Homo sapiens: one gene and its partners. The protein of the gene in region 4 purifies or fractionates together with the protein of the main gene of each other region. This does not show direct contact. Each region holds a gene or a part of one and is shown on either strand. Other genes may lie near its edges. The genes, in order: TXNDC15, CLN5, COL6A2 and OBP2A.

Region 1 (7,020 bases), on a different chromosome or scaffold from region 4:
CAGCCTCCCAAAAAGCTGGGATTACAAGCATGCGCCACCACGCCAGGCTAATTTTGTATTTTTAGTAGAGATGGGGTTTCTCCATGTTGGTCAGGCTGGTCTCGAACTCCCGACCTCAGGTGATCTACCCGCCTCAGCCTCCCAAAGTGCTGAGATTACAGGTGTGAGCCACCGAGCCCGGCCAATTTGATTGTTTTTATTTTTATTTAGTTATTTTTTTGAGACAGGGTCTCACTCTTTCGCCCAGGCTGGAGTGCAATGGCTTGATCTTGGCTCACTGCAACCTCTGCCTCCCAGGTCGATTTGATATTTTTAATATCTTATATCTTGATATCTACTTTACTTTTTGAATGCAATACAGTTACAATTATTGTTTTAATATCCTTGTCTGCTAATTGTGACATGGGTGCAAGTTCTGGGTCAGTGTGGCTTGATTGATTATTCTCATTATGTGTCCTATTTTCCTGCTTCCTTATATGTCTGATAATTTTTTACTGGATGCCAGACATGAATTTTACTTTGTTGAATGCTGGATATTTTAGATTCCCTATACATATTCTTTTTTTTTTTTTTTCTGAGACGGATTTCTCTCTTGTTGCCCAGGCTGGAGTGCAGTGGCATGATCTCGGCTCATTGCAACCTCCACCTCCTGGGTTCAAGTGATTCTCCTGCCTCAGCCTACCGAGTAGCTAAAATTACAGGTGCCCGCCACCATGCATGGCTAATTTTTATATTTTAATAGAGACAGGGTTTCACCATGTTGGTCAGGCTGGTCTCAAACTTCTGACCTCAGGTGATCCACCCACCTCGGCCTTCCAAATTGCTGGGATTACAGGCGTGAGCCACTGCACCTGGCCCCGTATATATATTCTTGAGCTTTGTTCTGGGGTACAGTGAAGTTACTTGAGAACAGCTTGATTCTTTCAGGTTTTGCTTTTAAGCAAGCAAGCTGTTATTTTCTTTAGGGTTAATAGTGTCCCACTACTGACGCAGGTCCTTTTGTATACTCTACTCAATACCCTGTGAATTATGAAGTTTTTCAGTCTAGCTGGTAAGAAGAGGTACCATTCCCTGCTCTGTGTGAATGTTGGGTACTGTTCCTTCCCATCCTTTCTGGTAGTTCTTTCTCTGGCACTGGGTAGTTTACTCACATGCATGTGATGACCCGTACCCTGCTGTATACTTGGGGGGGCCTCTGCAGATCTCTGGAGTCCCCTCTCTAGATAGCTCCTCTCATCTGCAGTATTCTGTCTTGCAAACTATGGCTTCTTGGTCTCCTTGGACTCTTAGCTCCATCTCCTCAACTGGGAGAGTCTGCTGGGCTCTGCCTGGATTTCCCCTCCCTGAGCCACAGTGGGAACGCCATCAAGGCAGTAAGTTGGAGCAGTTGTAGGGTTCTCTTCATTTGTCGCCTGTTTCTCGGATGTCACTATCCTCTGTTGCCTCATAACTGATTTCCTGAAACTGTTGTTTTATATATATTATCTATTTGGTTGTTTCAGTAGGTAAGGTAAATCTGGTTCTTGTTACTCCATCTTGGCCAGAAGCAGAATTCCCAGATAATGTTTTTGAATCTCTGAATGAATCCACAGAGCTCTATGCCCTAGTGTGAGGTAGATCAGTAGGGTAACTGTAGTTCATAATAGCCTATTGTATATTTTAAAATAGCTAGAAGAGAAGAATTTGAATGATTCTAGCATGAAGAAAAGACAAATATTTAAGGTGATGGATATCCCAAATACATTGATCTGATCTTTACAAATTGCATGAATATATTGATTATCACATGTGCTTTGTGATTATCACATGTACATCTGTTATGCATCAGCAACAACAAAAAGCTCTACAGGGATATTCTTTGAAATCTTATACAAATGTGCATACCTGAGGAAGCCCCCAGACCTTCCCAACTTTGAAGTCAGTTGGTCACTGACACTCCAGTGACATGCTGTTGGCACGCAGAACTCATCACCCAGCGGGTGGTTTCTTAACCACATGGTGAGCTTTCGTGAGGGCTGCTGGCCTCACTGGTTTCTGCTGGTTGGTGCCTGGCACAAAGTCTGGCAGCTGGTGTTGAGTTGATGAGTTGGAGGGCAGGAGGCATTGCTATGGAGGTGAGTGGAGTTGGGTAAATAGATGTACGAGACTACCTGGGACTCTTCCCTTATCTGAGCATTATGCTCAAGACCCACCTTCTAGCTCCAAAGTGGGGGAAAGTTCTCTTCTTCCTCCTGCTGCTGCCTCTGCACTGCCGAGCCCATCTCCCAGCACTCCCAAGGGCAGCAGCCCAAGGGTGGCAGGCAGGAGAGCAGAGTCCAGCTGTCAGAGGCCACCTCAGGAAGGAGCTGCTGTGTGGCTTGAACAGTGTTCTTCAGGCAGTGTGGCTCAGCATCCCCGAGGTATCATGGCAGGGAGCCTACGGCTCGTTCTGGAGTAGCAGCCAGAAAACTTTGCTCGCAGACTTGGCTTTGCTGCTTACTATCTGTGTACCATCGGACACTGTGCTGAGCCTCTCTGTGCCTTGCCTCGTTACCTGTTCAGTGGTCTTGGTAACCCTTGTCTTGCCCATCTCACAGGACTGTTATAATGTGTGCAAAGATGCTTTGTTCTAGTAGAATCTTGCATAAAACCATGATCCTTTTCTTGGATATTATCAAACAAATGAAACTCTTATCAAAAAATGAAAGTGTTTATATTCTATTTTCCTAATGAGATATCTGAACTGGAATGTTTTTGGTTATAATCCACATGGCAAGCAGCAAGTTTAGGGCAGAGCTGTGTGTTTGTCTATTATTTGACATTCATTATTTTGTTTGCTTGTTTGTTTGTTTGTTTTTTGAGACGGAGTCTTGCTCTGTCGCCCAGACTGGAGTGCAGTGGCGCAGTCTTGGCTCACTGCAACCTCCGCCTCCTAGGTTCCAGCAATCCTCTTGCCTCAGCCTCCCTAGTAGCTGGGATTACAGGTGCCTGCCACCATGCCCGGCTAATTTTTATATTTTTAATAGAGACAGGGTTTCACCATGTTGGCCAGGCTAGTCTTGAACTCCTGACCTCAAGTGATCCACCTGACTTGGGGCCTCCCAAGGTGCTAGAATTACAGGTGTGAACCACCATGCCCGGCCTTCTTTGACATTCATTAATTTATTAATAGTACCTGCTTGTGACCTTCTTCCTAACCTGGGAAATGGTGAGTAGCTCTCTGATAGTTTAATGAAAGGAGACCTTTTTGTCTCCAGAGGGGAAAATTTCGTGTTAGAGGGGAACTGTAATTCTTTGGGGTTCATTTGTTTTGAAGTCAAATATGACTCTGAATGTGCTGGCATGTTTTAGTTGCAGAGGAAAGTGGTCGCTTATGGTCAGAGGAGCAGCCTGCTCACCCTCTCCAGGTGGGGGCTGTGTACCTGGGTGAGGAGGAGCTCCTGCATGACCCGATGGGCCAGGACAGGGCAGCAGAAGAGGCCAATGCGGTGCTGGGGCTGGACACCCAAGGCGATCACATGGTGATGCTGTCTGTGATTCCTGGGGAAGCTGAGGACAAAGTGAGTTCAGAGCCTAGCGGCGTCACCTGTGGTGCTGGAGGAGCGGAGGACTCAAGGTGCAACGTCCGAGAGAGCCTTTTCTCTCTGGATGGCGCTGGAGCACACTTCCCTGACAGAGAAGAGGAGTATTACACAGAGCCAGAAGTGGCGGAATCTGACGCAGCCCCGACAGAGGACTCCAATAACACTGAAAGTCTGAAATCCCCAAAGGTGAACTGTGAGGAGAGAAACATTACAGGATTAGAAAATTTCACTCTGAAAATTTTAAATATGTCACAGGTAAGGAAAAATTATTTAGTGCTTTTCTCCTTTTCAGTACATTTATTTTATGATTAATACCCTATCAACTTTGAAATGGAAAATCATGATCTTGATCATATTGTAAGCGAGATAGCATTTAATGGCTGCTTCAGTGAAAATCAACTTTGCCCTCTGTGATGTTTATAGGGAGACGAGGAAATATAACTAGTGTTGATTATGCTTTTCAGATGGCCTAAACCTAGTTATCCTTGGGCCAGTCTCACCACCAAACCTCACGATAGAAATCCCAGTGGACAGATAGTTGCTTGGCACCAAAATCATAGCATTTTTCCTTTTGAGACAGAGTTTTGCTCTTGTCACCTAGGCTGGAGTGCAATGGCATGATATCGGCTCACTGCAACCTCCGCCTCCTGAGTTCAAATGATTTTCCTGCCTCAGTCTCCCATGTAGCTGGGATTACAGGCATGCACTACCATGCCTGGCTAATTTTGTATTTTTAGTAGAAATGGGTTTCACCATGTTGGCCAGGCTGGTCTCAAACTCCTGACTTCAGGTAATCCACCCGTCTCGGCCTCCCAAAGTGCTGGGATTACAGGTGTGAGCCACCGTGCCCGGCCATTTTTCTTCTTCCAAATGAAGTATTTATTTATTACAGAGGCAATTTAAACATATCTGGATTACTAAAATTATAATTTACCATTATTTAGACTAGTAATGCCCCTGGAAAATATGTTATATTGATGAAATTTTCTCTTTCATCAATGACTGACAATTTCTGTGGGGTGGTTCAGAAAACAGAAGGGTAGGATGCATTCACACTGCTTATGTAAGAGAGGTAAATCCTGACTCTAAGAGCTGTGACTGTTGTCAGTGAGGGCACAGCACCTGTAGTGCACATAGCTCCTCCAAGGGCAGTGCTCGGCGCTGGCTTTGCATCCACTCCTGAGTGCCTGTAGATGCTGTGGTCTGTGGGACTCCCACAGGTGTCACTCACATGACTGGGAGAGAGCAGTTTAAACAGTCTGAGTTATGGATTAAACAGGTGGTGGCAGGGACGGTGTACCCTTTTTCTTTTTTTGACACAGAGTCTCACTCTGTCACCCAGGCTGGAGTGCAATGGGATGATCTGGGTTCACTGCAACCTCTGCCTCCCGGGTTCAAGTGGTTCTCCTGCCTCAGCCTCCCGAGTAGCTGGGATTACGGCACATGCCACCACGCCTGGCTAATTTTTGTATTTTTAGTGGAAACGAGGTTTTACCACGTTGGCCAGGCTGGTCTCAAATTCCCGACCTCAACTGATTTGCCCTCTTTGGCCTCCCAGAGTGTTGGGATTACAGATGTAAGATACTGTGGCTGGCTAGGACAGTGTACTCTTGAATTGATCTAACCTTTGGCCAAACATATCGATATGACTGCTTAGTTCAGACTTAGCTCTGCTGAGATGATAGTTTGGATTTGAGATCGTAGTCCTCTAATAATTCCATTTTAGATGGTTTGAGATGCACAATTCAAAGGTGGGGGCAATTGCCTGGACCCTGTGAGTACTTAGTACAGGCATACCTCAAAGATACTACAGGTTTGGTTCCAGACCACTGTGATAAAGCAAATATCGCAGTGTAGCAAATCACGTGAATATTTTGGTTTCCCAGTGCATACAGAAGTTATACTATATTGTAGTTTATTAAGTATGCAGTAGCATTATGTTTAAAAAATGTATATACCTTAATTTAAAAATACTTTATTGCTAAAAAATGCTAACGATCATCTGAGCCTTCAGTGAGTTGTAATCTTTTTGCTGGTAGAGGGTCTTGCCTTGATGTTGATGGCTGCTGACTGATCAGGATGGTAGTTACTGAGGGTTGGGGTGGCTCTGGCAATTTCTTTGAGACAGAGTATTGCTCTGTCACCCAGGCTGGAGTGTGGTGGTGAGACCATGGCTCACTGCAGCCTTGACCTCCCAGGCTCAAGTGATCCTCCCAGCTCAGCCTCCCAAGTAGCTGGGAATACAGGCATGTGCCACCATACCTGGCTAATTTTTTTCTTTTTTTTTTGTAGAGATGAGGTCTCACTATGTTGCATAGGCTGGTCTCAAACTCCTGGGCTCAAGTGATCCTCCTGTCTTGGCCCCTCAAAGTGTTGTGAGTCGTGAACCACCATGCCTGGCCCACAGTTTCGTTTCGTTTTTTTCTTTTCTTTTCTTTTCTTTTCTCTTTTCTCTTCTCTTCTTTTCTCTTCTCTTTTCTTTTCTTTCTTTTTTTTTTGAGATGGAGTCTCACTCTGTCACCCAGGCGGGAGTGCAGTGGCGTGATCTCAGCTCACTGCAACCTCCATCTACCAGGTTCAAGCTATTCTCCCACTGCAGCCTCTCGCCGAATAACTGGGATTACAGGCGTGCTTCACATGCCCAGCTAATTTTTGTATTTTTAGTAGAGACAGGGTTTCACCATGTTGGTCAGGCTGGTCTTGAACTCCTGACCTCAAGTGATCTGCCCACCTTGGCCTTCCAAAGTGCTGGGATTACAGGCATGAGCCACCACACCTGGCCTGTGGCCCACAGTTTCTTAATTCCTTTCACGAAAGAATTCTCTGTAGCATGCAATGCTGTTTGATAGCATTTTACCCACAGTAGAACTTCTTTCAAAGTTGGAGTCAATCCTCTCAAACCCTGCTGCTGCATTATCAACTAAGTTTATGGAATATTCTAAATCCTTTGTCGTCATTTCAACAGTGTTCACAGCATCTTCACCAGGCGTAGATGCCATCTCAAAAACCTACTTTCTTTGCTTATCCATAAAAATCAACTCCTCATCTCTTCAAGTTTTATCATGAGATTGTAGCAATTCAGTCCTATCTTCAGACTCCACTTCTAATCCTAGTTTTCTTGCTATTTCTACCACATCCGCAGTTCCATTCTCCATTGAGGTCTTGAATTCCTCAAAGTCATCCACGAGGGTTGGAGTCAGCTTATTCTAAACGCCTATTAATGTTGATATTTTGACCACCTGCCATGAATCACAGATATTTTTAAAGTCATCTAGAATGGTAAATCCTTTCCAGAAGGTTTTAAATTTATTTTGCCCAAATCCATCAGAGGAATTGCTATCTATGGCAACTATAGCCTTATGAAATGTATTTCTTAAATAATAAGAGTTAAAAGTTGAAATCCCTCCTTGATTCATGGGCTGCAGAATGGATGCTGTGTTAGCAGGCCTGAAAACAA
Region 2 (8,006 bases), on a different chromosome or scaffold from region 4:
GGTTTTGGACGGAAGTCAAAGCGCCTAATAAAGAAAAAGAAACCATCTACTTAGATTCTAAAATGAATCTGATTCTTCTCACGTCTTTTAGAATCCAGTAACATTTTTAGGGGACCATTCAAAGGTCGGACCATAGTTAATAAATATAAACACACATTTTGTTATCTTGTGAACAAACTTCCAATAATGTTTTTAATAGCAAATGATAAACTAAAAGCACTCTGATAAATACGGGCTTCCCTGTTCCCTGATCCCACTGTGAAAATTTTGAAGACAGGAATTTTGTCTTAAAATTTTTATAGCTCCAGATCATAGTAGACATTTGCAAATGTTTACAGAATAAATGAACATTTTTCCAATGTGTTCAATTTTACAAACAGTCCATACATTAAGATTATTCAGATAATTATGAGTAACAGAATACATTTTATATTTACTTACGAATTAACATTCATTCAACCAATATTTATTGAGGCTCCACTACATATATAGTGAACTATAGTAAGAAGGAGGGAAACAAAAATTAAAACACTGTTCCCTTTCTCATGGAACTGTGGGTGGGAGCTGGAAAGACACTGAACAAGTAATGAGTGTGGTATGTGCTAGACTAAAGGAATGAGTCCTATGGGCACACAGGAAGGACAAATCATTGTTAACCAGGTATGGGATGAATGGGGTGGGGAGGGCAAAGAAAGAGATGAAGGCCGGGCCTAGGTTTTTAATGTAGTTGATTAGAAGGTTAAGACAGAAAGGCAGAGGAAATGTTAAGTATTGTAAGACAAGCCTGGCACATTTGGTCTCCGGTAGGTACGGAAGACTGGATTTCAGGCCTCGACGCAGGAATGGAGACGGAAGAGACTGGCAGGGGCTGTCATTTTGTCACTAGGAGAATGTGCATGGAATTCCCTGCCTTATAATTGGGGAGGGCTAAACTTAAAGGATGTTAAGTAGCAGATCTGACAGGACTGAATTTGCTATAAAGTAAACCTTATTTCACGAATTAAAAGAGGGTATGGAGAGAGGCCAAATAAAACATGAGAGATCAGTTAGAAGGTGACCTCAACAATGCAGGCAAGAAAAGAAGACCGGAGAAGGCCACAGCAATAGGACTCGAGGGGCACTGCAGCTGAATTCAGCTCAACAGACACACTGGTCACCTATAATCTGGCACTGGGAAAGAAAGAAGTGGTGGCGACAACAGCTTCTATCTAAGAATCCTAGATCCCCAAGGTTGTAGCCAGATCTAACAAATCTTAACAAATCAACAAAAATTTCTATTTTAACTTAAGAAGTTAAAATCTTTATGCTAATCGAAACTATTAACGACGCTCCCAAAAGTTTCTGCTACTTGGGTACAGTGTTTTATAGGCACTTACCTGGTTTAAACAAATACATAATCACATGGAGATTTCACTGACACAGCAAAATCTATTTTAGTTCAAAGGTAATTTAAGTGTGAACTTAATAAACTTAAATATTATATTCAATTGAGGGAATTAGATGGGAGCACGTACTTAATATCTGAGACTTAAAAAAAAAATCCACTAAAAAGCCATAGTCAACACCTTGCCCTAATGTTAAATCAAATCGTTTGGATTTACAATTCTTGTTCTATTGAGTAATTTTGACTTCTTACAAACATTTTATTATTAACATTTTCCAGAAAACTAGCTTCAACCACAAACTTCTCTTTCCACGTAGTATATCACACAAAACAAAAAAGTGTTGTAAACATTTCAGTGAGCAGAATACACTATCTAGGTTTGACAACAGCTGGCATTTTACTAGATTTAATCCTTCCAGCAAACCTATGAGGTACGTGCTACCACTATTCCTATTTTTTGACTCAGGGCATGTGGGCACAGAGATTCTGAGTAACTTTCCCAAGATCCCTGGTGATGACAGAGCCAGATTTGACCCGCAGCAGGCAGAACTCCTTCCCACTCATACTGTCATACAAAATAGCTGTTTTTTTCAGGTTTGTTGTGTGCAGTTTTAGCTGTTGATTACTTATGCTAGTAAGTTAAAATTATGTCCAATGATGCTTTTGGTTTAAAGAAAAATAGCTGTTTTCAAAAACTGCTGGTCTTTCTCCTGCCTGATGTTGACACCATGTTTTCTTTCTCTGTGTTTAGCTATCTCTGACCGCCGGAGGCTGTGTCTTCTCTGTCAAAGGCTGGAATCGACCTCCCAGGTGTGCGGGCTCTGTCCCCGACTTAGGACCGGCGTCCTACCTCCAGGCTGAAGACTGGACAAAAGCGGTGACAATCTTCCCGGTCTAACCAGGACTGCAGGAGACGGGGATTCCCGGGATGCGCGACTTTTGAGGGCAAAACTGGGAAGTCCCAATAAGGACTTCGGATCAGGTTCTGATCAGGTTCAAACCAGAGCGAGTTGGTCGCCCAGTAAATTGTACCAAATGTTCCGCGGTAATAACTAACGACAGTGCATGATATAAATAAATGCGATAGACAGTGTTTTTAAACTACTCAAGAAATCAGCTACTTGTACCCAGAAGTCCCTCCATTAAATAACATTACTCTCCTTTTCTTCTTCCACGATTCAGGACTGTCCTGAGTCTGCCGCAAGTGACCAGAGGGGACGAAAGGTCCCAGGGCTGCACGTAACGAGCGGCTGCGACTCCCCAGTCCTCAACTTTGCTCTCAAGTGCGCTCCGAGCGTCACCCGGCGCTGTCCCCGCACCATCTCGTGACCCGACACAAACCACGGTGAGCAGGGGTCCCCGCCCCAGCACCCCATCCCCCATCGTCAACGCCGACCCCAACCCCGACAGTGCGCGCGCCGCCGCACTCACTTGTAGGGCACCGGCCAGTGGCGCCGGGAGGGGATGCCCGAGACCCGGGACCAGCCCGGAACCACCGCGAGCCAAAGCAGCGCCAGGGCCCAGCACCAGGAAGCGCGTCCCCGAGCCGCGCCCGCGCCCCGCCGCATCTCGGCGCCCTGTGCCGTGTCTACCTCCTGCGCCATCAGGCTGCACCCAGTACTTCCGGAGCCTCTCGAGGCCTGCGACGCCGGTGGGAGGAGCATGCGCGGAGCCGCCAGTCCGGGACGCGGGGCGCCTTGCCCCTGCGCGTCAGCTCCAGAGCTTGGCCCCAAGCGCAGGTTCCGGCGCATGACACCTCCCCGCGCCCGGCCCGCGGCGGCTTCCACACTTTGCAGTCCAGGAAGGTGCTTTGGTCTGGCTCCCAGGAGAATTCGATCCAGACCTGGGGCGTCATCTTTTATGAATTGACCTGTCCTTGCCCAAAAGCCACCACCAAAACCAAAAATCTGTCACCGGGGCTCCTCCCAACACCGAACTTTTACCCCATCCCACAGGGCCCACGCTAGGTGTCAACAAACGTTGAGTGAACGAGAATGTGTATTTGGAGCTGAGGGTGCAGGGCTGGGGGTGCAGTGAGGAAGAAGGGACAATAGTGCGGAAATGGCTCGTCGTCACCCGACCTGGGCCAGTCATAACAGTGGTTAACACTGACAATATGTGGTCCCTGCCACTCCCCAAGTGCTTAGTGGGGAAATGACTCGTCCTCACTCGACCTGGGCCAGTGATAACAGTGGTTAACACCGACAATATGTGGTCCCTGCCACTACCCGAGTGCTGCCGAATCTACCCCCTCCCCTACCGCTCCCCTCACAGGCAGGTGTTCCTTGCTTGGATCTGTCACTTCACTGGAAAGAAGTTTCTGCATCACCTTCTCTTCTTTGACTCTTCAACTAGGTCAAGAAAACAATGGCATCAATTACCCGGCTTTTGAGGAGCCTCTTGTGGCATGCTTTGCTGTTAGGCACAAATACTGACTTAAGTCTATACGTAGTACATTCAGGGCCTTGCCATAGTCACTTGTTTTTACCAGACAGCAGTTTTGCAGGGCCTTAGACCGGGACTTTCCAATTCCTTCACTTCACCCACAACTCGTGTGAAGCATCATAATGTTTGTAAGCCTATGGGAATAAGCAAGGTGGCTTCGGTAGCCGGAGATGACCACCACAATCCATTGGAGGATATGTAGCTTGTGGGGGTGTCACTGACTTCCTTGGGCCCTCCAGGTCTCTTGATTACATATGGGACTCAGTACCCTGCCCCAAACACACACTCCTTTGCCCACTTGCTGCTCCAGGTTTGGGGGTTTTGCGGAGGTTCAGGCTGGGCTGCATTTTACCATACGTTTGTCTAAGCGTTTTGATAGCTACCTAGCTCTCCTCCGTATACTATGGCCAAATTCAAAATTACCAAGGCTAAACTGGCTTCTTCAAAGACCTGCCCAAGATAAGAGGGGGAAGCATTCTAGCCCTGAGAGCTGAAATGTAATGTCTGATTTGAAGGGCACCTGAAGGATTCCGTGGCCCCACACTTGAGCCTAGCTTAAAAAGCAATCAGCAGGAACAGCTTTAAAAAAAAAAAAAAACATTGATTAGAGCATTTACAAATCCTGGAACCATACACAGTATGATGTATGAGGGCCACAGTAGATGGCCTCAACAACCAGAGCCTCCGTGGCTGCCTGGAGAGCGGTGATGCAGGCAGCAGCTTCATGAGATATTTGCAGTTTAATCCAGTCATCTGCAAGCACAATCTGCCCATCAGATTGGACTTTCTTGGAGGCAAAGAGAAGCAACTGCAGTGGGGTGACTAAAGTCATGCCTTTAGCAGAGATGGCTCGAGTTCAAATCTTTTCACCAAATACAAAGAAGGGAGATAGGTACTTCATGTCTTGGCTACTAAAAGGACAATTAACAGTAGATGGTTCCAGGTTCCATCTACTGTTAGTAGAGGGCCACAGTAGAACCTCCCATTCAGTTCAGGACTTCCCAGAGCTACAAAAACAAATTCAGGTTGACCTTGTTCAGTGGTGGAGGCCTCTGGTCTTGCTTCTGCCATCTGTCTCTTCATTCTGTGTGCAGGGAGCTTTCATGGTAAGAAAGCACTTCCTAGTATTGGTTTTTATTTTTTATTTTTTTGGAGACGGAGTCTCCTTCTGTCACCCAGCCTGGAGTGCAGTGATGTGATTTCGGCTCACTGCAACCTCCGCCTCCCGGGTTCAAGCAATTCTCCTGCCTCAGCCTCCCTAGTGGCTGGGTACAAGTGTGTGCCAGTTGTAATTTTTTTTTTTTTTTTTGGTAGAGACGAGGTTTCACCATGTTGGCCAGGCTGGTCTCGAACTCCTGACCTCAAGTAATCCACCTGCCTCGGCCTCCAAAAGTGCTGGGATTACAGGCTGTAGTCACCATGCCTGGCCCTAGTATTGGTCTTAACTCAGCCTCCTGGTAGCTCCCATTCTTCTGGTCTGGTTTTGCCTTGGATGGGAACACTGATTAAACCCCATTCTTTTTGTCTATGACCCCACACCCCAAGCTGAAGGTGCTCATAGATTATCGCTGGTCGATACTGGTTGCTTCCCCCTTGTCCATGGCTTTTAAATCTTGAGGGCCCACAGACAGAACTAATTTCAATCTAATTGGTTTCCCTTGGATCCTTGCCCATTCAGCCTAAGACTGCCTGGACCACATGGCATCTCCCCAGATAGAGTGATAGGATTCTGGGGAAGTGTGGAGTTGAGATGAAATTTAAATAAGCAGTATTTTGGTAGACTCAAAGCAAAACAAGGCTGTATGTCAATGATGGTAGTGGCTGCTCCAGACGGCCTGCTGCTGCCATCAACACACAGGCTCTAGGTCTAGACTGCAAAGTGGATGAAGGGCCTATTTCCTTGGAGACTATGAAGTTAAAATAGCGATGGAGTTTTGTGTCTGGAAACCCCTTATCAGAAGCTTGACATCTGGGTTGTAAATTGAGGCCAATTCTCTGTGTGGAATGACTGAGGTCCTTCAAGCAAAGGTGGGATATTTTATTGTTACTGATGTAATTTCAAACACGAAGTTGTCTCTAATCTATGATTTTAGAGAACAAAGTTTCTTAGTGAATAAGAAAGCAGGAAGCCAGGCAAGGTGGCATGTACCTGAAGTTCTAGCTACTCAGGAGGCTTGAACCCAGGACTTTGAGGCTATAGTGAGCTATAATCGTGCCTGTGAATAGCCACTGCACTTCAGCCTGGGTAACATAATGAGATACTGTCTCTAAGAAAAAATTTTTTTTTCGTGTAATACTTTATTTTCCATTGTATTAAATGAAAGCCAGGAAAATATCAAGTTATTTTTAAAGACAAATCTTTACTCCTTAAAGAAAAATACAAACTGTGGTATTTCTAAGATAGATCGTTACATTTTACATAATATAAACAAAATCACTAATGCATCTATATGCTTGGTTTCCTTAAGCTACAGTGAACCACAGAATGGGTTAAAATGCATTTACTTTTTGGTGGGAAATAAACATTGGAAAAAAATGTCACACATAGCATGGCTTTTTTTTTCTTACTGTCTACACACAGGAACTGACATAACCAAGCCTTAACAGATGCCACCTTCTCTTCCTTGTCCAAAGTAGCCAGTTCCATAGGCCCCCCTACCACCTCCTCGCTGGAATCCCCCAGATCATCTGTAGCCTCTACTAGGCCCTCTGTAATCTCCTCCAGAGTTGCCTCTATAGCCACCTCAGGAAACTTCTCTATAGCCTCCACCAACACCTGCACCATATCCTGCCCGACAGGAGCTGGAGCTGCCACCATAGCCTCCGCTACGATAGCCTCCACTGCTATAGCCACTGCCATAGCCTTCACTGCCATAACTAGAACCTCCCCTTCTATATCCGCTTCCATTGTCATATTGGGCCATCTTAGGAGGACCTGGACCATCTCCATACCATGTACTGCCAATCATAAGGTTGATATCAGCAGCTGAGGGTCTAGAGATTTGACGGATCATGTTCAGTATACTTTCATTTACGGGGTCCAACTGGCTGATGATAGCAGGTTGTTTGGTTACTTCAACAACCAGAGCCTCAGTGGCTGCCTGGAGAGCGGTGATGCAGGCAGCAGCTTCATGAGATATTTGCAGTTTAATCCAGTCATCTGCAAGCACAATCTGCCCATCAGATTGGACTTTCTTGGAGGCAAAGAGAAGCAACTGTAGTGGGGTGACTAAAGTCATGCCTTTAGCAGAGATGGCTCGAGTTCGAATCTTTTCACCAAATGCAAAGAAGGGAGATGGGTACTTCATGTCTTGGCTACTAAAAGGACAATTAACAGATGATTTGTGGATAAGTGCATTACACCCTTCAGTGGTGAGAATCTTTGTCTTTTCCTTATGATAGCATACATTGGGGTACACACCAAAGGCCAGGAAGAGAGATAACAACATCCAAATTATTATCTGGTCCAGTGTTAGTAAACACTTGTGTCACCAAACAATCTTCTGGAAACCCAGAATTAATCAGAATCTCTTTGAGCTGAACTTTGACTTCCCAAGTCATTCTTAGTGTAGCCATATGAAGTCTTTTGTGCGCACAAAAACGTATTTCTGCTTCTTCTCCACCCATTCTAGTATCATCTCCGGCTTGGAATACTGATAAAAGGGCTACATGATGAGAAAATCCGTTTCCAGCAAAATTTCAATGGTTGTAGCCCAGCCACTTTCCTTCATTTATAAAAGGCTCTGGAAAGCAGGTAGCAGCAGGAATGGTACAGATAGCATCTCCCACATAGAAAATACACACCATTATCATCATTTTGCCAAAACGAGGCTCAATGAGGAGGTTAGCCAGGATTCGTCCCAATGGAGTCAAATCATCATTGGCATCTAATGCATCAAGCTCTCTAAGAGTGTGTTCTGCTTCAATCACAGCATCCAAAGGGAGAGTTTCAATTGCTTTGGCCAGAAACTGGCCAATTCCAACTAGACATGGAAGTTTTATGCTAAGAGCAACTTCATGCAATGGTGTTTGGAACATCTCTGGTGTCATGTGGGTTTCAAGTCTCTCAAAACGAGCTCGGCTGCAGAGGTGAAAGCAGAATCCAGGCCGTATTCGGCCAGGTTGCCCTTTCCACTGTTCAAGGTTTGTTTTTGATCCCCATACTGTAGCATAGTTG
Region 3 (7,405 bases), on a different chromosome or scaffold from region 4:
AGGTTACTTCAGTGCTCTGGTCTCAGCTTCCTCTGCAAGTGGTGGCAGGGCTGTGCTGGAGGCATGAGAGGGGTGTGGGAGCTGCAGGCTCTGGCAGGTGGCACGCTGGGGTTCTTGGAGAGGGGTGTGTGGCTGCCAGGGGACTACTGCTGTCATTGCCATCTGCAGAGACAAACAGAAACCCAACACGGCAGCCATCACTGGGGCCCCTTCATGGGAGGGATAGGGTGGAAATTGCAGGTCCCAGCAAGGCCTCAAAGCAAGTGCCCAGCCTCCCCTGATCAGTCCAACCTGAAGCCAGGTCCTGGTGTGCACAGAGATGCACGGCTGGGCTGCCCCACCTGCTTGGGCCACAGGAAGCATTTCTCTAAAGGTGAGCAGCTTCCTCTGCAGGTGACACGGCCTCCACCCAAACCCAGAGGCTCTGGCTCTCCCACTGCGGCTTGCCGCAGCCCCACACTTGCCTGCTCCCACACTGACACCTCCAACACCACAGGGGCTGCTGGGTCACGTGGCCCAGATGGCAGGGCTGCTCAGACAGTCATTTTCTGCTCCTGGCCGCCTCGAAGCTGGCAGCCTCCATGTCAGCCAAGCCGTGGGTCAGAGCAGTGCCCCCAGGAATTAAATATGTTGCCTTCAGAACCCAAAAAGGCCTGTCAGGCCCTGTGCTTCCTCCTTTGAAGTAGGGGATGCAAGATGTAGCAATTTCTCTTTTACTTTAGAGGATGTCCTGGTATGAACCTGATCACTGGTGCCCTAAAAACTTCCATGAAGTTAGGTCCCTGAATCCTCGGAGTTCACCTCCCACCCACAGATGCAAATGTGTCTCATAAGGCCTCTAGCTCATGACCCTCCTGTTCCTCCTCCTGCCCATTATGTCGTCACTGTAATGGATCAGTGTGGTGTCCGGTGCACTGCTCAGGTGCCCAGATCTTTTCAGGCAATATTAGGACAGAGGACAGAGTTAGCGTGGCCCTGCACTAAACTGGGAATGAGTATTGTTGTTCCTCCCATGTAAATGCAAACTGTTTCCGATCCTCTTTTCTAATTGGAATAGAAAAGAATGCAATGGCCAATCACTGGCCTCATTAATCTGCTACGATGATACGTCTGACACAGCAGATGCAACTGGAGCTACTACCGGGTTCAGGCTAAGTGGTCTGGCGTCACTTTCTAGGATCCATCAGTCTTTGCAATGACCAGGCCAGAGAATTAGACACGACAGTCCACCACCCTCGCCTCCGTGAGGCCTTTAACGGTGGTGCCATCCTCCCAGGATGCAACGTGGTTTGTGATTTACTCTCTTGGCCATGGAAAGGGGACTTCCCCACTATGATGTCTGTCACCACACAGGCCTGGGATCCAATATATGGCTACTCCAGCCACCAAGTACATAAATTATAATTACATACTCAGGGGGCAGGGAAGCGGCCACTGGATGGTCTTCTGGCCCAGGGGTCTCACTGTGCCCAACACTTTAGCCAGGATTCCTTTTTATTACCTGGCCCCGTCAGCCCCTTCTCTAACAGGGAGGCCACAGCGACACTTTTGGCCTCCAGTATCAAGGTCCACTCACATCCCGCGTCCATTTGTCCTCAAAATCTCTGGATTTTCCCAGCGTGCAGCCAGCTGAGTGAGTGACAGCGGGATTCTACAGAACATCCTTGTCAAGGTATTGCCTGGTCCTTCCTTCTGGTGACCTGGCCACCTCTGCAATCAATGGTTCCAGACAGGAAATTAGCTCAAGTCCAGGAATGGAGTAGGGAACCACGATATTTTACTGGAGTCCCCGCCCTCGGCCTCTTTCTTCCTTCCTCTGCCGTCCGCCAGGGCGGCTTGGCTCAACATGACCCATCGCTTTCTCCAGGCTTCTGGGAGCCATCCCAGAATCATCTTTGACCCACGACCTGCAGAACTTGCCAGGTAACTAATCCTATGTGCCAAGCAAGTGCCTCCGCCTCAATAGTTCTTCTGTCCCCCTGGATAAAGCACCCTGGAAATCTAATACCGGGGGTGTTCCCTGGCTCCTGCAGGCACATGCTGGCTGCCTCGTGCAGTTCCTGGACATGCAACCTCTCTACTCCCTGGTCAGGCCTAGCAGGTCCCCATCCAGGTTACCCTGGACTTTCTCCCTAGTCACTGCTGGCAGCCAAGAGACAAGGTGGAGCAGCCCCCAGTGAGGGCACCTGCTGCTCTGGTAGGGGAGGCCCCTGGAGCATCTTCCAGCACAGAGGAAGTGCTGGCTTCCAAGGGCAGGAGGGGCCCCTCTGCAAGCTCTGAGGGGACAGGGGTCTGCAGGGCCATGCCCTCAGGGCTTCCACCTGGATGTCTCAGCCCATGTTTCAGGGTCCCAGATTTTCCCAACCGGGGTCCAGACCTTCACATAGGCCAGCCGTGGCCAGGCATCAAAACATGCCTAGAGCTAGGTGGTCCCCACAGTCACTGTCGGCTCCTCAGCCATACTGGTTCTACCTCTGCCAAACATGGGACTCCTTTTCAGCAACCAGAGAGGCCCTTTGTTCTCACACCAAGCCTGATGGGCAACCGTGGGTAACGTCGCAATCTCCATTCATCCCTCTGTGGAGCATCAACCCCACTCCCCCCATGCACTGAAAGGGGGAAACTGCCACACCCACAAGGCCTCCCCTTCCACCAGGAAAACGTCCCAGATCACTCTTGGTGAAAACATTTAACAATTGGGGCCCTAACTTTGTGCCAAAGATTACCCATATCCCCACATCAACCAGAATGGTGTCCTCGGTGTTGGCCGGGAAACGGCCACCGCACCAGCTGAGTCTCAGGCCCCTCCTGCACCACTTGTGTTAATTGGGGTCTTCCAAGAGGCAGGTGCCATGGAAGCTCTGACGTGACTGGAGATTTATCAGTGCAATGTCTGTGAAGGATGCTGGGGGGGTGGCCAAAGAGGACGGAAGCCTCAGACCACAGGTGAGACCCCTGTGAAGGAGATACGGGGAGCCTTGGCCAGCACGTGCCCCTAGACAGTGCTGGCCAGGCCGAGGGAGAACTTCTGGAGCCAAGGTAACCCCTAAAGGATTCTGGTCTTGTGAGGAGGGGCCTGGCTTCCCCCTGGGAGCTGCTGGCTTGGAAGCAGGAGGCATTGCCCAGGTGAGAGTTCGGCATGGACCCAGGGGAGTGGCACACGGTGCCCGCCGTCAGCTGTGCTCAGGAGCAGCAGGCAGGAGCCCTGGACTCATGGCTACCATGTGGCTGCCACACTCAGGCACACTTAGGCACATACACTCACACTCAGGCACACTTAGACACACACATTCACACTCAACCTCAGACGCAGACACACACCACACACTCACAGATGCACACAGTCTCAGACACAGACACACACCACACACAGATACACACACCACAGACTCAAACTCAGTCTCAGACACAGACACACACCACACACTCAGATGCACACACCACACACACTCAGTCTCAGACACACACACACACCACATTTGCAAACCTGCTCATCAGAAGAGGGACCTCGCCCCCAGCCGCTCCGCCACCTTCCAGGACAGCTCTGAAGGGAGCCCTGTCCCGGAGCCCAGGGACCTCTCCCCAACCCGGCTGCGCCTCACCTCAAGGAGGAACCCCGGCCCTGGCTGGGGGACTGTGACCAGGGTGGGGAGTGGGGACCCCAGACAGAGCCCTACCAGGGACCCCTGTCACTCTGTCCCCGGCTGGGCTCAGGTGGGGACCTCACGGTGGTCCCAGGGCCCAGCACCAAGCCCACCTGTGGTTTCCAGCGGGAAAGGGGTGGCAGGGGTGGCTCGCCGCATGCCCAGGCTCTGCCCCAACCTCCGCGCCCAGGCTCTGCTGTCCCTGCCCTCCCGGCTCCCCACCCTCAGGCCCCAGGAGCGGCAGTTTCTGCAGGAGCTCCTGACCCGGGGCCTCTCGCGGGAGGCCTGAGCAAGCCGGACACAGGACACGGGGTAGGGGAGGGGTCGGGGGGCTGATGGGGGGAACCCTGCACCCCCCAGGGCAGCTGCTACCAAGGGGCGAGTCCCAGGGCCCCCGTCGGCCCTGCGTGCGGGGCGCGGTCCCCAACACCCAGGGCCCCGGAGGCGGACACAGCCCCAGCCAGGTCGTCCGGGAAATGGGGCGGGGGCGACGGGCGGCCGGGCCCGGGACGCGAAGTCCGAGCAGCAGCGGGCAGGGGCTGGCGGGGGAGCTCGGCCCGGGCTGCAGGGGGGTCCCCACCCTCTCCACCTCCTCCAGCCTCCCGCCCTCGAGGGTCCCCGCTTCCCTCCCATCCCCCTCCCGTGCCCCCGGCCCCCTCCTCCCATCCGCGGGGCCGCAGCGCTTCCTGGCGGCGGGGCGGGTCAGGCCGGCGGGGCGGGGTATAAAGGGGGCGGCGCCGGCCGCGGTTCCCTCCCTGCTGCTTACTCGGCGCCCGCGCCTCGGGCCGTCGGGAGCGGAGCCTCCTCGGGACCAGGTGAGCGCCTCCCGGACCCCGCACCCTGGAAGCCGCTCGGCCCGCGGGGGGTGACCCCGAGTCCTGGGAAGGCGGCGGCGGCGGCTCCGTCCCTCGGGTCCCCGGGAAGGGGGACTCCAGCCCCAGGGACGGCGGGGGGCTCGGCGGGTTCGGGGCTCCTCCTCGCGGGGCTGGGGCCGCGCCTGCCCCTGTGGCTCCGCGTCTCTGGGTCCGACCCTCGGGCGCGCGACTTGGGGCCACCTCCCCGCGGCCTCCTCTGGGGCGGAGCCGGCCTGGGCGGGGTGGGGGGGTCCCTGTCTGCGCCCGAGCTCGGTGCTGGGACCCCCGCTCCCGAGACGACCCCGGCACCGCACGCCCCGCCAGGCCCCGCGTCTGCGAGCGGTTCGGGTCCGGCTCCGGCCCGCGGGGAAGACGCCCCGGCTGGCTGGGACCTCCGGGGGCGCAGGGCCTCTCCCCGGGCCGGACGGAAGGGGCGGCGGGGCGGGGGGAGGAGGGGCTTTCGGTGCCCGAGGGCGGGACTGGGCGGGGAGGGGACGCGGGTGGCCCCGACGCCCCATCGCTGCGCCCCTCCCGGCCTGGAGCCCACCAGGGCCCCGCCAGGCCCAGGAGAAGCTGCAGACGGAGGCGGCTCCCCAGGGCGGCGGGACCCGGGCTGACAGCGACCCGCAGCCCCTGCCGGGCCGCCCACACCCGCCCTGGGACTCCGCCGGGGCGCTGGTGGAACCGCTGGGCCTGGGTCTCCACTGCTGGCAACCGAACGGATCGGCCCTCTGTGGAGCCGCAGGTGTGCGGGCGAGCGGCGCCCATCCGGGCTGTGCCAGCAGAACCCCGGTGCCCGCGCCTAGGACGCCCCTGGAGAAGGGACCTTCCCTTTGGGGTCGGAACCCAGAAAGGAGGGGCCTGCGATCCGCGGAGCTCCTTGTTCTTGGGATAACACAGCTCTGGCTTGGAGGCCCCCTTGCACTTCGACTCTGGTGATTATTTCAAGAAAGGCCAGACCGGGCACGGTGGCTCACGCCTGTAATCCCAACACTTGGGGAGGCCGAGGCGGGCAGATCACCTGAGGTCAGGAGTTCGAGACCAGCCTGGCCAACAGGGTGAAACCCCGTCTCTACTAAAAATACAAAAAAAAATTAGCCGGGCGTGGTGGCAGGCACCTGTAATCCCAGCTAATCGGGAGGCTGAGGCAGGAGAAAATCACTTGAACCTGGGAGGCGGAGGCTGCAGTGAGCTGAGATCGCGCCACTGCACTCCAGCCTGGGTGAGGGAGCGAGACTGTCTCAAAAAAAAAAAAAAAAAAAAAAAAAAAGGAAAGAAAGGCCCGGTGAGATGCTTTCTCTTAAACACGGCCCTGCACGTTGAGTTGCTGCCTCCTGTGGCCTATTTCACGTTTATGCAAAGTCGGGCGCCTGATGCGGGGCTCACCCGCCACAAGCAGGGGTCCTGGTGCTGCTCATGGAAGGGGCCCTACCCAGCCCGCGGGGCACTGGCTGGGACGGGGCTGCCCAGGTCCGCCCAGGATCCAAACACCCAGCCCCGCCCAGCGGCCCTTCCTGGCCTGCAGTGGAGGCTGTAATGGGCAGGGGTGGTGGGAATCCCAGCTCACAGGGCGCCTGCTCTTAGAAGGGCGGCATCTGGGTCCAGAGGTCAGAAACGTCAGATGCCCATCCCAGAAGTGGCGGGGAACCTGTCTCCACAATGGATAGCAGCACTGTCTTTTTTTTTTTTTTTTTTTTTTTCTCATTTCATAGATAAGGAATGATGCCTTGTTGGGGGGTTTGTTCTGCATGTCTTTGGTTTTTGTGCAGTACAAGGCTATTTGGGCTGTTTGATCACTGACCGTGTGTAGTGATGTGCATTGCCTGGTTGTGATGTCCCCATGTTCCTAATGGATGTTCGCTTTTTGGGTTTTTTTGGTTTTTTGTTTGTTTGTTTGTTTTTTGAGACAGGGTCTTGCTCTGTCACCCAGGCTGGAGTGTGGTGGTGCTATCACTGCTCACTGCAATCTGCACATCCCTGGCTCAAGCGAGCCTCCACCTCAGCCTCCGAGTAGCGGGGACTACAGGCATGCACCACTGTGCCCAGCTAATTTTCTTTTAAGAGACGGGGTCTCACTATGTTGCCCAGGCCATGGATGTGTTTGTTTGTTTGTTTGTTTGGGGTGTTTGGGGGGTTTTTTCTTTTTTTATTGATTTGAAAAAGCTTTATTTTCCCGAATTTTTTATTGTGGTATACAATATAAAATGTACTGTCTTAACCATTTTTAAGTGTGCAGCTAGTTCAGCGACAGTAAGTACATTCATAGTGTTGTGTAGCCATCACCAAGGTCCATCTCCGGAACTCTTTTCCTCTTGTCAAACTGAAGCCCATGGAGCACCAACTCGCATCACCCCTTCCCTCCCCTGGCAGCCACCATCCTACTTTATGTTTCCAGGAATTTGGCCATTTAGGTGACTCATATGAGTGAAATCGTATGAAATGTCTCCTTTTGTGACTGGCTTATTTCACGTGGCTTAATGTCCTCCAGATTGATCCACACTGTAACGTATGTCAGCATTCCCTTCCTTTGTAAGGCTGAGCAGTATTCCACTGCATGCATGCCCTGCATTTTGTTTACCCATTCGTCTGTTGCTGGACACTTGTGTTGCTTCCACGTTTGAGCTACTGTGAATGATGTGGCCATGAACACACCACACAGATACCTCTTGGAGATCCCACTTTCACTTCTTTTGAGTATGTTCCCAGAAGTGGAAATGTGGATCATTTGATTTTTTCATTTTTTTGAGAATTAATTGCCTCACTGTTTCCCACGGTGGCTGCACCATTTTGCTTTCCTGCCAACAGTGCACAAGGGTCCAGTTTCTCCACATCTGCACCAACAGGTGTCATTTTCCGGGTTCGCTTGGTTTTTTTTAAATGTTAACCATCCTAATGGGTGTGAGGTGG
Region 4 (7,114 bases):
ACTAATTCTTTGTTGAATATGTAGTTTGTCAATATTTTCTTTCAGTCTTTGGCTTGTCTTTTTATTCTGTTAACAGGGTCTCTTACAGAGCAAAAGGTTTTTATTTTGATGAAGTCTATTTTAACAATTTTTCCTTTTATGGATCATATTTTTGGCAACAAATCTAAAACCTCCTGACCCAGCTCCATATGTCAAAGATTTTCTTGTTTTCTAAAAGTTTTATAGTTTTAAGTTTTATGTTGAAGTCTATGATCCATTTTGAGTTAATTTTCATACAGGGTGTGAGACCAAGGTTGTGGTTCTTCTTTTTCTTTGGTGGTTTTGTCTGTGGATGTCCAGTTGCTCCAGCCCGTTTGCTACAAAAGCTATCTTTCCTCCACTGAATTACTTTTGCATCTTTGTAAAAATGTAATTGGGTGTATTTGTACAGGTCTGTTTGAGGATTCTTTATTGTCTGTCCCATTGATCTATGCATCTGTCCATGTGCTAGCTATATAAGTCTTGAAAGGGTAGCCTGTAGCTGGGTGTGGTGGCGAGAGCCTGTAATCCCAGCTATTCGGGAAGTGGAGGCAGGAGAATCGATTGAACCCAGGAGGTGGAGGTTGCAGTGAGTCAAGATCGTGCCACTGCACTCCAGCCTGGGTGACAGAGTGAACTCCATATAAAAAAATAAAAACAAAAATAAAGTAGCGTGATTTCTCCCACCTTATTCTTTTTTAAAAAAGTTTTAGCTATTCCAGTTCCTTTGCCTTTCCATATAAATTTTAGAATAATCTTGTCTATATCTACCACAATTCTTTCTGGAATTTTGATAGAAATTTTGTTACATCTTTATATTATTTGAGAGAAATGATATTTTTACTATGTTGAGTCTTCTAATCCATGGATATAACGTCTCTCCATTTGTTTAGATCTTCTTTGATTTATTTTATAATCATTGCATTGTTTTCAGCATACAAATCCAGCATATGGGTTGTTAGACTTATGCCTAGGCATCTCATTTTTTTAGCCATTATAAATAGTACTGTGTTTTTAAGTTTAGGGTCCATTACTAGTATGTAGACACACAATTGATCTTTGTATATTTATCTTGTGTCCTGCAACCTTGCTGAACTCACTTACTAGTTCTAGGAGGTGTATTGTTTTCTTTTGTTTTGTTTTTCAATTTCTTGGGATTTTCTACAGAGATAATAATGTCATCTGCAGATGCAGTTTTCTTCCTTCCTTTCCAATTTGTATGTCTTTAATTTCCTTTTTAAAAAACCTATATTACTCTGACTAGAACTTTCTGTACTATGTTAAATACAAGTGGTAGAGTGGACATCCTTGCCTTGTCCCTGATGTTAAAGAGAAAGCATTTGTAACTGAGTATCCCAGCCTCAAAATGTGCTTAAAAACTTTTTTCCTTTCTTGCTTTCAGCCTTGAAACATACTTCGAAACTCTTTATTTCTCCCTTTCCCACCAGGCACTTCCGTGAGCAGTGCTCGCTTATCTAATTATGTGCTTACTTAGAAATTCCAGGGGCCAATTTTGAAACAAACCAGGCAGAGAGACCCAGCTGCAGAATCCTCCCTCTTAGGGGGAGTTACAGGTAGCCTACCACTTCCCGGCTGAAATCAGGATGACGCAAACCAGACCTCCGGACAGACGATTGATGACTCACAATAACCATCAGAACAAGATGCAGACCAACATCCTCCTGCACCATTCCCACATATTTCCCACACCTTTTCCTCCTTAAACCCCTTCGCTCAGTCCAGAAAATCTGAATGGTCTTTTAAAGGCATGGGTCTGGCCATTCCCCAACTGCCAGTATTTGAATAAAGCTGCTTTCCTTTTACCACACCTCACTTCTCATGCCTTGACTTCTGAGCAGCGAGCAGCTGGACTTGAGCCAGTTACACATCAGTCTTTCACCATTAGAAATAATGTAGCCATAGGTTTTTTTTTCGTAGATGTTCTTTTTCAAGTTAAAGAAGTTCTCTTCTATTCCTATTTTTCTGAGAGGTGTTATCCCGAATGAGTGTTGAATTTTGTTAAATACTTTTAACAACCCAACAGGAACCACCATCAGAAGCCATCCAGAGAAACGCACCAGGCCACAAAGCACTGGGGGCCAGGGATCTTGCCCCTGCTGTCTGCCATGGGTTGACCCCCAGCCTCCAACCCTACCATCCCCTGACGGTGTCTGCAGCAGTTGAACCCAACCAGCATCTAAAAGAACACAGTTGGTGAACGAGACTGGGACACAGGGCAAGATGGGTGGACAATGGGAGGCTCCTGGAGAGCACCCGTACCAGCGAGCATAGAATTCATGGGGGTGACCTGTTCCCTGAAGCATCTGCGCGTGTTGTTCCAGCATTTTCTTCAAGGATTGAGCCAGCAGCACCAGTGTCATACGGTGCTTAAATCAATGATTCACAACCAACCAATGAAATACAAGGTGCCGGCTGGGCGCGGTGGCTCACGCCTGTAATCCCAGCACTTTGGGAGGCCGAGGCGGGCGGATCACAAGGTCAGGAGATCGAGACCATCCCGGCTAAAACGGTGAAACCCCGTCTCTACTAAAAATACAAAAAAAAATTAGCCGGGCGTAGTGGCGGGCGCCTGTAGTCCCAGCTACTTGGGAGGCTGAGGCAGGAGAATGGCGTGAACCCGGGAGGCGGAGCTTGCAGTGAGCCGAGATCCCGCCACTGCACTCCAGCCTGGGCGACAGAGCGAGATTCCGTCTCAAAAAAAAAAAAAAAAAAAAAAAAAGAAATACAAGGTGCCTGGGGTACAGGCAACAAAAATGGGGAACGGAGAAATCTTCCCGTTGAGGTAGAGACTCCAGCCTGTTTGCTCATCTCTGGTCCTGAAGAGCCCAGTCCCCGCCCTAAGGATGGGGTTTCTGCTCGGCAGCACTTGCCGTGAGAGGGGTGAGGCACTGGGTCACGCCAGCCCTTTCTTTATAGCCCCCAGGGTTTATTAGAGTGTGCATTAGTATTATTTAGCAAGCACTTGAGGGTGTCTGATCTTGGGCCAGAGAGGCACAAAGATTGTGTGGGCCCAGCACCTGCCTGCAGAGCGTGGGTCAGCCTTGGGTCCCAGGGCAGATGACGCAGGCCCGGGAACTACAGGGTCCAGGAGGGAGAAGGCAAAGTTCTGGCTCAGGTTGGCTGGGGATGAGGCCAGCGGAGCCAGGTGCCCAAGGGAGCTCAGCCACAAACTCTGAGCACAGGCTGGCAGGTGGCTCTTGATGCTCATGCCACCCATTTATCTAAAGGGATGAGATTCAAGGCCTGTCCCGGTGGCTGGGGGCCGTCGAAGCTGACGAGAGAGGGGATGTAGAGTGAATGTATATTCCACTCTACCACTTGTATTTAACAGGGAGATGGATGATGAACACGTGCAGGAAGAAACAGGCAGGACAATCCAGAGAGATCACGTGTTCTGAGGACAGCACAGCCAGGCTCCGGTACGGAGTGAAGCGGGGTGGGGCAGGCGGCGGGGTCCCTCATATGGCCCGAGGAGGCCGTATATATACTGACCTTGAACCACACAATAGTGCCCTTCTCTGCCCCTAGGAAGCTCGAGTGCAGGGTCCAGGTGGGGAAAATCAATGCAGAGTGGGTCCCAGAGTGGGCGGAAGCTTGGGCTCTAGGGCGTGCGGGACTCAGCTGGCAGCAGCCCCACGTCTCTATGGTTCTAAAGCCCAGTCCATTTCTGCTCAGCAGGGAGATGGCCAGTTCCCCAGAGGACTTGCCCAGGGTCCCAGCCGTGGCCCTGGGAGGGCTCAGGGGTGAGGGAGGAAGAATTCCGAGCCGTGGGCCCTCCCTCTGTGGCTCGGGGTGCAGACGTGCACTACCCTGCCCTGTCCTCTGGAGTCCTCCGGGCTCATCCAAGTGGGCGCATTTGGATGCAAACCCTGGACAGCATCGTGTGTCTTTTCTTCTCTGGCTGGCACTGAATTGCTGTTCACCAGATGCCAGCAATGAGGACACTCCCCCTCCCGGATGCAGGACTGGTTGCCACCATGGGGAGGGGTGCACCGTGCCACGTGCTCCCAGGACACTGGCCAGGGGGCTATAAAGAACATCTCGAGAGGAGCCAGCACAGCCTTGTTCAGACGCCCAGTGACCTGCCGAGGTCGGCAGCACAGAGCTCTGGAGATGAAGACCCTGTTCCTGGGTGTCACGCTCGGCCTGGCCGCTGCCCTGTCCTTCACCCTGGAGGAGGAGGATGTGAGCTGGGTTGGCGTGGGCGGATGGAGGAGCCAGGTGGACTCCTGGGCAGGGGGCAGTGCCAGGGGCCCTGCTTTAGGAGGTGTCACTGAAGGCTGGCTTCTGACCCCGTGCTCCCAGCCTGGGGTGGTGGTGGAGGGGTCCTATTGTTCCTCCAGCAGACACGGCCCCCCGAGGCCCAGGGCCGGAGCAGGCTCGGCTCAGGGGTTCCTGCTGCACTGACGCCTGAAGCCCGAAGGTCTCGCAGGGTTGGGCCCTGTGGAGGGAGGGCTCACCTGGTGCTGGGGCCCGGGGGTCCATGGGGTGCAGACATGCCCTCCTTCCACTGGGGGCTGGGAGCCCTGAGCAGGGGGCTGGCTCTAACTCACTCCAGCTGAGCTCTAACTAAGGTGCAGGAACCCAGCCTGCCTTTAGGGGTGGCAGCCGGGCACCATGGGTGTCTGGTTATAGCTGCAGGCCTGAGTGCCAGGGTCAGAGTAGAATCTGGGCCACCCATGGTGGGCTCACGGCCTTGGCCTGCTCCAGATCACAGGGACCTGGTACGTGAAGGCCATGGTGGTCGATAAGGACTTTCCGGAGGACAGGAGGCCCAGGAAGGTGTCCCCAGTGAAGGTGACAGCCCTGGGCGGTGGGAACTTGGAAGCCACGTTCACCTTCATGTGAGTGTTGCCCACTGCAGGGCCCCTCAGGCCACTTTCGCTCCCCGCCCCAGACCCACCTGGTGCCCATTGCCCCATCCACATTTCGGGTGTTGGGAAGAGTCACCCCCTGCCTTGGAGGGAAACAGCCAGGACATCCTGAAGCTCGGTGGGGTGGGGGGGCAGTGGAATTTTCAGGTTGCCGGGTCAGGGCCATGCACCAGGTGAGCTGAGGATGGGCCAGGTGTGTCCTGGGAGCCGCTGCCCGAGTGTCTCCTGTTTTCCAGGAGGGAGGATCGGTGCATCCAGAAGAAAATCCTGATGCGGAAGACGGAGGAGCCTGGCAAATTCAGCGCCTGTGAGCCCCTCCCCGACCCCCCACTCCCCATGCCCAACCCCGGATGCACCAGCCCCACTGCAGGTGGAGAGTGCCCAGGCCACACTTCTGCCAGGGTCCCAGCCCTGCCCACCTCCAAGGAGGGGCTGGCCTCTCCTTCCTGGGGGGCTGGTGGCCCTGACATCAGACACCAGGTGTGACAGGCTTGTCCACAGTAGAGATGGACCAGATCAAGCCTGCCCTCTGGGAGGCCCTAGCCATTGACACATTGAGGAATCCGAGTGTTAGGGACCAGGAGGCCGAGGGTTAGGGATGGGAAGCCAAGGCTGAGGGTTTGGGATCAGGAATCCGAGGGTTAGGGACAGGGAAGTGGGGCAGGAGCAGCTGCTGGAGCTGGGAAGGCCGGACTCTAGTCCTGGACGTGCTCTGGCCTTGTGGCTCCATTACTTGCATTGGGACCTTCCGAGAGGAGGCTCCTGCCTCCGTGTCCGGGTCCATGCTGTGCGGAGCAGCCAGGCCTGGCTCAGGCTGTCCAGGGCACCTGGGTGACCACTGAAACATTCCTGAGTGTTTCTTCGTGTGGTCCTGAGTGCTCTCTCCGGGAATGAGGGCACTGAAGACCCATCTTCTCTGTCATCTACAGATGGGGGCAGGAAGCTCATATACCTGCAGGAGCTGCCCGGGACGGACGACTACGTCTTTTACTGCAAAGACCAGCGCCGTGGGGGCCTGCGCTACATGGGAAAGCTTGTGGGTGAGGGGCCCGCTGGGGCCTGCATGTCCTGCCCCATGGTCTCTGCCTCCAGAAGCCAGTGGAACCACCATCATCACGCCCTGGCACGGGGGGAAAAGGAAGCCCCCTGCGCCGGCCTTCGTGTGCTAGGCACCAAGCGCTGCCCTGGATGGCTGGTCCAAGTTCCTGAAGTGGGAGTGGGGTGGGCCAGGCAGGGACAGACACGGCCCTCGGTGACATGAACCTGCCAAGGGCCGCTTGTGGGGTCTCAGGTGTAGGGGCCTCACCTTAAGGGGGAGGTAGCATCTTAACAGAGCTCTTCATGGGGCAGGGACTCTCCAGGGCGGCAGGGCAGCCAGTGCCTCTGGGACACAAGGTCCCTCCAGGTGAGGGTTATGACCCTGCAGAGTGGCTTTGGGAGCTGCCCAGGTCCCCCTGGGGTTGCTGAGTGGCTTGGACCCTGCCACTGTCCCCTTTCCTGGGGACCTCTCACCTGGGCGGTGGCCGTCTCCTCTGTCCCCAGTCCCACCCCTGAGCTCTTGTCCATTCTCAGGCCTCCTCTCCCCCTTGCCTGGTGCTGGACAGTTGCCATCTCTTCTGTCCCCAGCCCCACCCCTGAGCTCTGATCCACTCTCGGGCCTCTCCCCCGTCCTGATGCTGGGCCGTGGTCGTCTCCTTTTAGCATCTGCTCCCTGCAGGGCCGTGCCGCTGTCCCCACCTTGGCTCACCTGGCCACCTCACCTGCAGGTAGGAATCCTAATACCAACCTGGAGGCCCTGGAAGAATTTAAGAAATTGGTGCAGCACAAGGGACTCTCGGAGGAGGACATTTTCATGCCCCTGCAGACGGGTGAGGACGGCTGTGCCCAGTACCCCGTGTTCCCCTGTGTCTCTGTGTGATCTCCAGTGTCCCATGACCCCCATGTCCTCCCATGTCCCCCGCATTCCCCGTGTGCCCCGAGTCTCCTCGCAGGGGCTCTGGGCCCTGCTTAGCATCCTCGTCGTTGGAGGGTCTGCACTCTGGGCTGCGATGCGGTCTGGGGCTCCGCGCTCTGGGCTGCGATGGGGTCTGGGGCTCCGCGCTCTGGGCTGCGATGGGGTCTGGGGCTCCGCGCTCTGGGCTGCGATGGGGTCTGGGGCTCCGCGCTCTGGGCTGCGATGGGGTCTGGGGCTCCGCGCTCTG

Evidence for each region.
Region 1: the proteins of OBP2A (region 4) and TXNDC15 purify together in Homo sapiens (affinity purification with mass spectrometry; 3 studies listed by BioGRID and IntAct, with this or other methods). This does not show direct contact.
Region 2: the proteins of OBP2A (region 4) and CLN5 purify together in Homo sapiens (affinity purification with mass spectrometry; 2 studies listed by BioGRID and IntAct, with this or other methods). This does not show direct contact.
Region 3: the proteins of OBP2A (region 4) and COL6A2 purify together in Homo sapiens (affinity purification with mass spectrometry; 2 studies listed by BioGRID and IntAct, with this or other methods). This does not show direct contact.

The regions. Positions count from the first base shown.
Region 1 is NC_000005.10:134,884,365-134,891,384, forward strand, and holds part of TXNDC15 (thioredoxin domain-containing protein 15 isoform 1 precursor), read left to right. Parts: intron 1-3,330; coding exon 3,331-3,818; intron 3,819-7,020. UniProt on the Homo sapiens protein: Acts as a positive regulator of ciliary hedgehog signaling. Involved in ciliogenesis.
Region 2 is NC_000013.11:76,987,081-76,995,086, reverse strand, and holds the start of CLN5 (bis(monoacylglycero)phosphate synthase CLN5), read right to left. Parts: upstream 3,007-8,006; 5' UTR 2,989-3,006; coding exon 2,816-2,988; intron 25-2,815; coding exon 1-24. UniProt on the Homo sapiens protein: Exhibits palmitoyl protein thioesterase (S-depalmitoylation) activity in vitro and most likely plays a role in protein S-depalmitoylation.
Region 3 is NC_000021.9:46,093,715-46,101,119, forward strand, and holds the start of COL6A2 (collagen alpha-2(VI) chain isoform 2C2 precursor), read left to right. Parts: upstream 1-4,397; 5' UTR 4,398-4,459; intron 4,460-7,405. UniProt on the Homo sapiens protein: Collagen VI acts as a cell-binding protein.
Region 4 is NC_000009.12:135,542,029-135,549,142, forward strand, and holds the start of OBP2A (odorant-binding protein 2a isoform alpha precursor), read left to right. Parts: upstream 1-4,097; 5' UTR 4,098-4,152; coding exon 4,153-4,224; intron 4,225-4,749; coding exon 4,750-4,883; intron 4,884-5,149; coding exon 5,150-5,220; intron 5,221-5,842; coding exon 5,843-5,953; intron 5,954-6,614; coding exon of another isoform or gene 6,615-6,679; coding exon 6,680-6,781; intron 6,782-7,114. UniProt on the Homo sapiens protein: Binds and transports small hydrophobic volatile molecules with a higher affinity for aldehydes and large fatty acids, including undecanal, palmitic acid, efficient aldehydes, benzenic aldehydes, heterocyclic aldehydes and aliphatic acids.